Linked DNA regions of Homo sapiens. The protein of the gene in region 1 purifies or fractionates together with the protein of each later gene. This does not show direct contact. Each region holds a gene or a part of one and is shown in the gene's direction. Other genes may lie near its edges.

Region 1 (3,650 bases):
CAGCTTCTGAATCACCTGGCACCATCATTTAACTTTACTGAGCCTCTATAAAATTAAGATACAATAATGCCCTATTTCTACTCTCCACTTGATAGTGATATTCCCAGTACTCAGGCAAGAACATGTTAATTAATAAGAGCTCTTTGAATTTCTTTGAAGCTGCTGAGATGTCTGAGGTGGCATGACAACACATGGCAGGATTAATATCATTTGCACTTATTTTGGTATTTATATTAAATATAATGCAGTATTTAAATTCGCAGACAAGTCAGCTCCCCATTATCTATGTTTTAATATTTATTTGTGTCCACTTTCGAGGTGAAACTGACTGTATTCAGCATTTCAGCCCGTGTTTAAGGTGGCTTGTCCCTGAAAGGTGGAGTGTTGGGGATTCATGCAAACATTTGAGGAAGGGCACCTCCCAGAAAACTTTCTTTGGTGCCTTTTACCTCCTGCTTCTTTTACTCACTCATTGGGGTTTTGCCAGGCCTTACACTGCTCTTTCCTCAACTTCTTTCCCTCTTTGCCGCTTTTCTATTTTGTCGTTCCATGCTTGAGCATGGCCTTCCCCTCCCTCTCCTGTCAGCCCCACCCACTCTTGTCTCACCCATCATGGCCCTTCTCTTCCTCCCAGTGGTTTTGTAGGATTCGCTGCCCTGGCCACTTGGGCTGCAAGTGGCCAGTGCTCCTGTTTGGCAAGCCAGCTGTGTGGCACTGCTGGGCACGCATCAGCAGACAGTCAATGCTAGGTCCCTGTTTGTTGGTAGGAACAAGATGGAAGGCAAAGAGTACCAGTGTCTCTCCTCACCCCAACCCCATCGTCTGTGTTTGACCCCACTCCTTCTCTGGACTCCTTGGCCTCTGTTTACTACATGGAACAGTGAGATGGGAATGTCAAATTATCTGTAGAGTGTTTCAATGCTAATCTGAAGAAGAGCTATCAGGCCTCATTACTCATGTGAATTGACACCAGTATGTAAGCACTGAATTAAATCTATTGTCGAATGGATTTTGGAAAGCATTATAGCAAGCATTAAGCAGGTACCCAAATGGGAGGACAGCCATCCTATTTTCCTAACTGTAGAAATTCTATTTAGTCTTTCAACAAGCATGAGGTTTTCCCCATCCTTTTGGGGATTAGTTCAGTCAAGATGGCAGCATAATCAAGATGTCAGAGGTGGTCCTAAGTGAGGAGGTTCAGGATCCAAAAGCCAAGAGTGGGCATTAATGAGTTCATGGGGTCAGGTGAGTATTATTCCGTGTTTGGTATCCCCAAGACCATCCTCAGGCTCAATTATTCACTAAAAGTACTCACGGGACTCAGAAAAAACTGTTATACTTATGGTTATGGTTTATTACAGCAAAGGGATACAGATTAAAAGCAGAAAAGGGTGAAGGTGCATGGGGTGAAGTCCAGGAGAAACAAGACACAGGCTTCCATGTGTCCTTTTCTAGTGGAGTCAAACAAATATGCTTAATTCTTCCAGCAATGATTTGTGACAACATGGGCGAAGTATTTGCCAATCTGGGAAGCTCACCTGAGCTTTAGTATTCAGGATTTGACTGGGATCAGTCACACAGACATGCAATATCTGCATGACTGACCTCAGCTACTCAAACTCCAGGCTCCCAGGGCAAAAATAGGTGTTCACCATAAATCACATTGTTGGCATAAAGTGTCTCATCATACTAGTATTGTGGGCCCAAGGCCTCTGGCATGCAAAATACTCTTATCAGGTAAAATGTTACTAGGACTCAGAGCTCATCTCTCAGAAGCTGGTCAAGAGCCAGTCCTAAAAACAGGCCTGTCTTGGGAATGTGCGGGGCTTGAGCAACTCAACCGTTTCCAGCACATATTCCCAGGGTGAAGACACTGGAAGGCTTTGGACACATGACTGAACTTCTCCTACCTCAGCTGTCACCTTCCAAGCGTAACATTCTCTCTTCCTTCCACATGGGATCATTGTGATTCTGAATAGTAACGACTATTTTCACAAAAAGTAGGTCATCTACAGCAAGGACACTATAAATTATTATTGTTATTTGTATCATATCATTATTATTCAGGGGGTGGAGCATGGGAATGAGCCCTGAACACTTCCTTGTTATCTCATAACAAGTCAGAAATGCCTTTTCCCAAGGTTCTGAAGGCAAAGATAACTTCAGAACAGCGTGTCTCCACTCCACACTGGCATTTAACCCTCTCCCTTGCTCTTCTCTGTCTCCCTTTACCTGGCAGTGGCTGAGAAACCCTGGCCCCCAGCATGAGAAGCGGACTCTGTTTGGCGACATGGTGTGCTTCTTGTTTATAACTCCCCTGGCCACCATCTCGGGCTGGCTGTGCCTGCGGGGCGCCGTGGACCACCTGCACTTTAGTAGTCGGCTGGAAGCCGTCGGACTGATTGCACTCACTGTCGCACTCTTCACTATTTACCTCTTTTGGACACTAGTAAGTATGGGCCGTGGCTGGGGTTCAGGCCATTTGGAGCTGGCAGCCTCACAGCTGGCACAAGCCTTTCCTCTTGTCTGTAACACATCTCACCTGCCCGGTAGAAAACAGACCTTCGATTGCTGGCGGGAGCATGAGATTTGGTTTATGACTATGTGTGTGTGTGTGTGTTTGTCTGTGTGTGTGTCTGTGCTGCTAAGGCGGATCACATAAAGAAAAAGTTTGGCTTCTGGGTGTCCATCAGTCAAAGACACAGACACACCATGGACGTTTCTCTCCTCTAGTAGTCTAGGACTCCATCTGTTATGAGTCTTGGCATTTTCTTTCCCTTGTTTATGTTTCTCATTTTTGCCGGGATTGTAGTATATTATGAATGATGCATTTGGCTGCTGTTGCTGTCACTGCCTGCACAGATCGTGAATCCTCCCTGCTGGTTATTTCCTTCTTACGTCCTGACACAGCCTAAAGTCTTTGTTGGACGTGGAGCCGCACTTTGCCTGGTGATTATTCTGTGTGTTGGGATATTGACTCTGCTGCCCATAAAAGCACTAATTTATCTAGCTGAGAAGCTGCCACCAAAGAAAGGCCATTTCCCAATAAGTGTTCTCGCTGTGTGTGAGGAAGAATTTTTACATATCACTTTTTTCATTCTTTTAACTTTTAACTTCATGCAGTAAGTTGATCGCTTGAGTACCAGTTGACAGCACCCACAAAATGCAACATTTGATCTCTCTCCTTATGCTTTCCTCTGGGAGCTGCAGGGAAGGACATCACTGTCTTCTAGAATATTTTCAGAAGCTGGGCCCCCTGCTTCCTGGCATTACTCTCCTGTGCCTGCTCGTTTCTAATCTGAGCACGTTCCACTGTTATTCAATATGTATTTCCTGTCTAAAGTGTACCATTCCCATATCCCATAGCACAGTGTCAGCATGTGGAAGCTGCTTCTAGCACATACTTCCTCCCTTTCTGTGTCTCCCAGACCCTGTTCCTCCAGCTGCCACTCCCACAACCCTGTTCATTTCCCTCTTCTTCATCATATGGCTCTTCCAGCTCTGTGCCTCCCCTCCAGTGAGAGTGTTCAAACAGTAAGGAGATACATTTCAGTTTCAGTAAAGAGGGAGTGTTCTAATGCTAAGAACTTATCTGAGTCTTATGGTTAATTTAGACATTCTGTTCCCAGGCTAGTGAAGCCCCAAGCAAA
Region 2 (3,650 bases), on another chromosome or scaffold:
TCAGTGAACCTTTCTTCCCAAACATAGAATACGCCTCTTCTCTGAGAGAGGTAGCTCCAAAGACCTATCTAGTCACTGTGTTTGGCTCCAAGTCCAGCATGTCTAGGTGGTACACAGTCCTATCCATCAGGCCCTGGTGTGGCTCCTGTGGTCCACTGACCATAAAGTAAAAGATAAGTCATATGTTTTCCCTGCTTTCCCAGCCTAACCCAGTAGACAATGGTGAAATAAGAAAAGGATCATCACAGTGAGAGTTACAAACTCCCATTTGGAAAAGGGAAGAATGAGAAACATGTAGAAGTCATTGCTTTCCAGTAATGATCAAATAATTGCCTCACACAATTTCAAAGACTCCCTATTCTGACCAGGAAGTGGTTAGTGGTTCTGCTTTCTTGGAGGAACTCCCTCACCCTTTTTCCCTGACTCCTGGCTTTGTTCTCCAGGAAGTTTTTCCTTTCTGGCCACATCCAAAATGGTAGTTAGAGAGTATATCATCTTTGGGAATTGTACCCATTTTGTAGTCCTCTTGCTGCCAGCGTAGGTTTGTGGGCCTAGAGGTTAGGGGTTAAATAATCTTAGCTTCTTATGATTTTGGCTTTATACTTTCTCTAAAAATGTATTAGACTTACAGTCTTTGTGTTTCTAGGCAGTTCCTGGGAAAATGTCCAGGGAAAGCACATGTAGTCGTCCTTTTAGAGGCAAGACTGGGAAATAGGGCATATATCTTCCACTCATGTATTATGAGCCAGAATTTAGTCACAGCCATATGTAGCTTTAAGAGAGTATAGAATATGTAATCCAATTAAAATGCAGTTATAGTAGAAGGAGATGTTATCTGTCTGCCATGCCTCTCTGCCTGTGTCTCTGATCTAGCTGTGTTATTTCGAGCTTTGGTACCTTTTTTTCATGCTTTTGTTATCTTCTAGGAATGCTGTTCTCCCCCTAAGCCTCCTTGTAAACTTTTGCTCACTTTACAGGTCCCAAGCGAAATACTTTCTTAATTTGTACTTTAATGCTTCTAAAAGGGCAGTTCTGATCATATTCCTTCCTTCAACAGATACTGTCTGCCCTCAAGGTAAAATTCCTTAACGGGACTTGGAATATTCTTCAAGATCTGCCACTTTTTCCTTCTGTGGGCTCATCTTTTACTACTTTAGTCCTCAGTTTTGCTTTCCAGCCATACTTCATACTTAGCCATTTACAATTCAATGCTAGGTTCTTTCTCTCTTCCTAGCCTTTGCAATAGCTGTTACCTTTTACTGGAATATATTTATCTACTTAATTTTTTAAAAATCTCACTTTGTGTGCCTGAGCTTAGATGTTTCCTTTTCCAGAAACCCCTGAACATTAACACTGAGTCAGGCACCGCAATCAGACACTCTTTTTATGTGTCTACATAGCATCTAGTTTGTTCATATTGTAACACTTTTCACACTGTATTATTATTATTATTATTATTATTATTGAGACGAAGTTTCGCTTTTGTTGCCCAGGCTGGAGTGCAATGGCGCAATCTCAGCTCACCGCAACCTCCACTTCCTGGGTTCAAGTGATTATCCTGCCTCAGCCTCCCGAGTAACTGGGATGACAGGCGTGTGCCACCACGCCTGGCTAATTTTTGTATTTTTAGTAGAGATGGGGTTTCACCATGTTGGCCAGGCAGGTCTCGAACTCCTGACCTCAGGCAATCCGCCCGCCTCGGCCTCCCAAAGTGCTGGGATTACAGGCATGAGCCACCGTGCCTGGCCTCAGACTGTATTATAATTGAAATGATTGTTTATTTCTGTACCCTGACTGTAGGCTTCTTGATGGCAGGGATCATACCTTGTTACCTTTTGTGGCCTGTGCACCAAGTGACTTACAAGTCTGGTTTAGGAGAAACAAATTTTATGGGGAAAGTGATGACTTTCATTCTGGGCATGTCATGTTTAAGCTGTCTATGGTATGTCCAGTTGGATATGTCTAGTAGACAGTAGTGTAGGTAGTCCTGGAGCTCAGGAGATAGGTCAGATGGAGATTTGGGAATCATTGGCATAATTGTGGTAGCTGAAAACAAACTACAACAAAACATGAGAGTGCATGCTGCCCTCCAGGGAGTAAGTAAGTGTGAAAAAAGCAGGAGGCTAAGGAAGCTAGAAAACGTTAGTGTAGAGGGAAAGGGACTATGATATAAACCAGGTATATTAGCCTGCTTGGGCTGCTATAACAAAATACCATAGACTGAGTGGCTTGAACAACAGATACTTGTTTCTCACAGTTCTGGAGACTGCGTGAGGTGCCCGCTAATTCAGTTCTTGATGAGGGCCTTCTTCCTGGCTGGCAGATGGCCACCTTCTTGCTGTGTTCTCAGGTGGTGGAAAGAGAGTGATCTTTTTCTTCCTCTTTTTTAAAGCCACTAATCCCATCACGAGGACCCCACCCTCATGACCTCATCTAATCTTAAGTGCCTCCCAAAGGCCTTGTCTCCAAATATAGTCACACTGTAACATATGAATTTTGAAAGGACACAGTTCAGTCTATAGCACCAGGCAAGCCTGATGTCAAGAAATCTAGTGAAGATAAAACACTTTCCAAAAGGAAGTGGTCAACACTATCATATGTTTCAGAGAGAGCCACTGGATATGGCAATGTGGAAGTCATTGGTGGAAATGGTGCAAATAGTTTTAGAGTATTGGAGGAAAAGATTTTGCCTGAGTTCCTGTATCTCCTTGTAATTCATGTCAGTCCTCTGTGAACATTAATATAATTCAACAGGTACCCCTATCTATCCACTTGCCCAAGGTACAAATGTGGGAGGCAAAATTTAGTTAACCTGTCTCACGCCAGTCACCAAGTTCTATAAATGCTGCCTCCTATCTCTTCTCTGTCCCTTTTTCTTTATTACCCATTCTACTTTAGTTTATTTCCCTCCTCATTTCTTACCCGGTATACTGCAGTAGTCTCCTGTCTGGTCCTCCTTTGAGTCAGTTTTCCGCACTCTAGCCAATGTGTCCTTTGTTTTTTTTTTTTTTTTTTTTTTAATGTGTCCTTTTTAAAGTGCAAATCTGATCACACCCTCCCTAGGCTAAAACTTTTGGATGTTTATTCATTATTCTTAGGATAATGCACAGTGTGGTTTATAAAGTCTTGTATAACCTGGTTTTTGCTTACTTCTCCAGTCTTGTCTGTCCAGATAATTCACTTTTTCTTCACATTCTGTACTCTAGTCATGTGAGCCAATTTTACTTTCCTAAATCTATTAGGTGCTGTTTTACCTCTAGGCCCTTATGCTTGCTGCTTCCTCTCTGGAAAAACTCTTTGCTCACTTTTTTTTGTTGTTGTTGTTTTTTGAAACAAGGTCTCACTTTGTTACCCAGGCTGGAGTGCAGTGGCGCAATCTCAGCTTACTACAGCCTCAACCTCCTGGGTTCCAGCGATCCTCCTGCCTCAGCCTCCCAAGTAGCTGGGACTATAGGCGTGTGCCACCACACCTGGCTAATTTTTGTATTTTGTGTACAGACGGGGTTTTGCCATGTTGCCCAGGCTGGTCTTGAACTCCTGAGCTCAAGCGATCTGCCCGCCTCAGCCTCCCAAAGTGCTAGGATTACAGGCATGAGCCAGCCACCACGCCTGGCCTTTCGCTCACTCTTTACCTTGCCATCTGTTACTTA

What was found. Proteins that work in one complex are often made in the same cells at the same time.
Region 2: the proteins of MARCHF3 (region 1) and VAMP7 purify together in Homo sapiens (affinity purification with mass spectrometry, with the first as the bait; one large-scale study listed by BioGRID). This does not show direct contact.

What each region holds. Positions count from the first base shown.
Region 1 is NC_000005.10:126,876,984-126,880,633, reverse strand, and holds part of MARCHF3 (E3 ubiquitin-protein ligase MARCHF3), read left to right. Parts: intron 1-2,239; coding exon 2,240-2,449; intron 2,450-3,650. UniProt on the Homo sapiens protein: E3 ubiquitin-protein ligase which may be involved in endosomal trafficking. E3 ubiquitin ligases accept ubiquitin from an E2 ubiquitin-conjugating enzyme in the form of a thioester and then directly transfer the ubiquitin to targeted substrates.
Region 2 is NC_000023.11:155,891,305-155,894,954, forward strand, and holds part of VAMP7 (vesicle-associated membrane protein 7), read left to right. Parts: intron 1-3,650. UniProt on the Homo sapiens protein: Involved in the targeting and/or fusion of transport vesicles to their target membrane during transport of proteins from the early endosome to the lysosome. Required for heterotypic fusion of late endosomes with lysosomes and homotypic lysosomal fusion.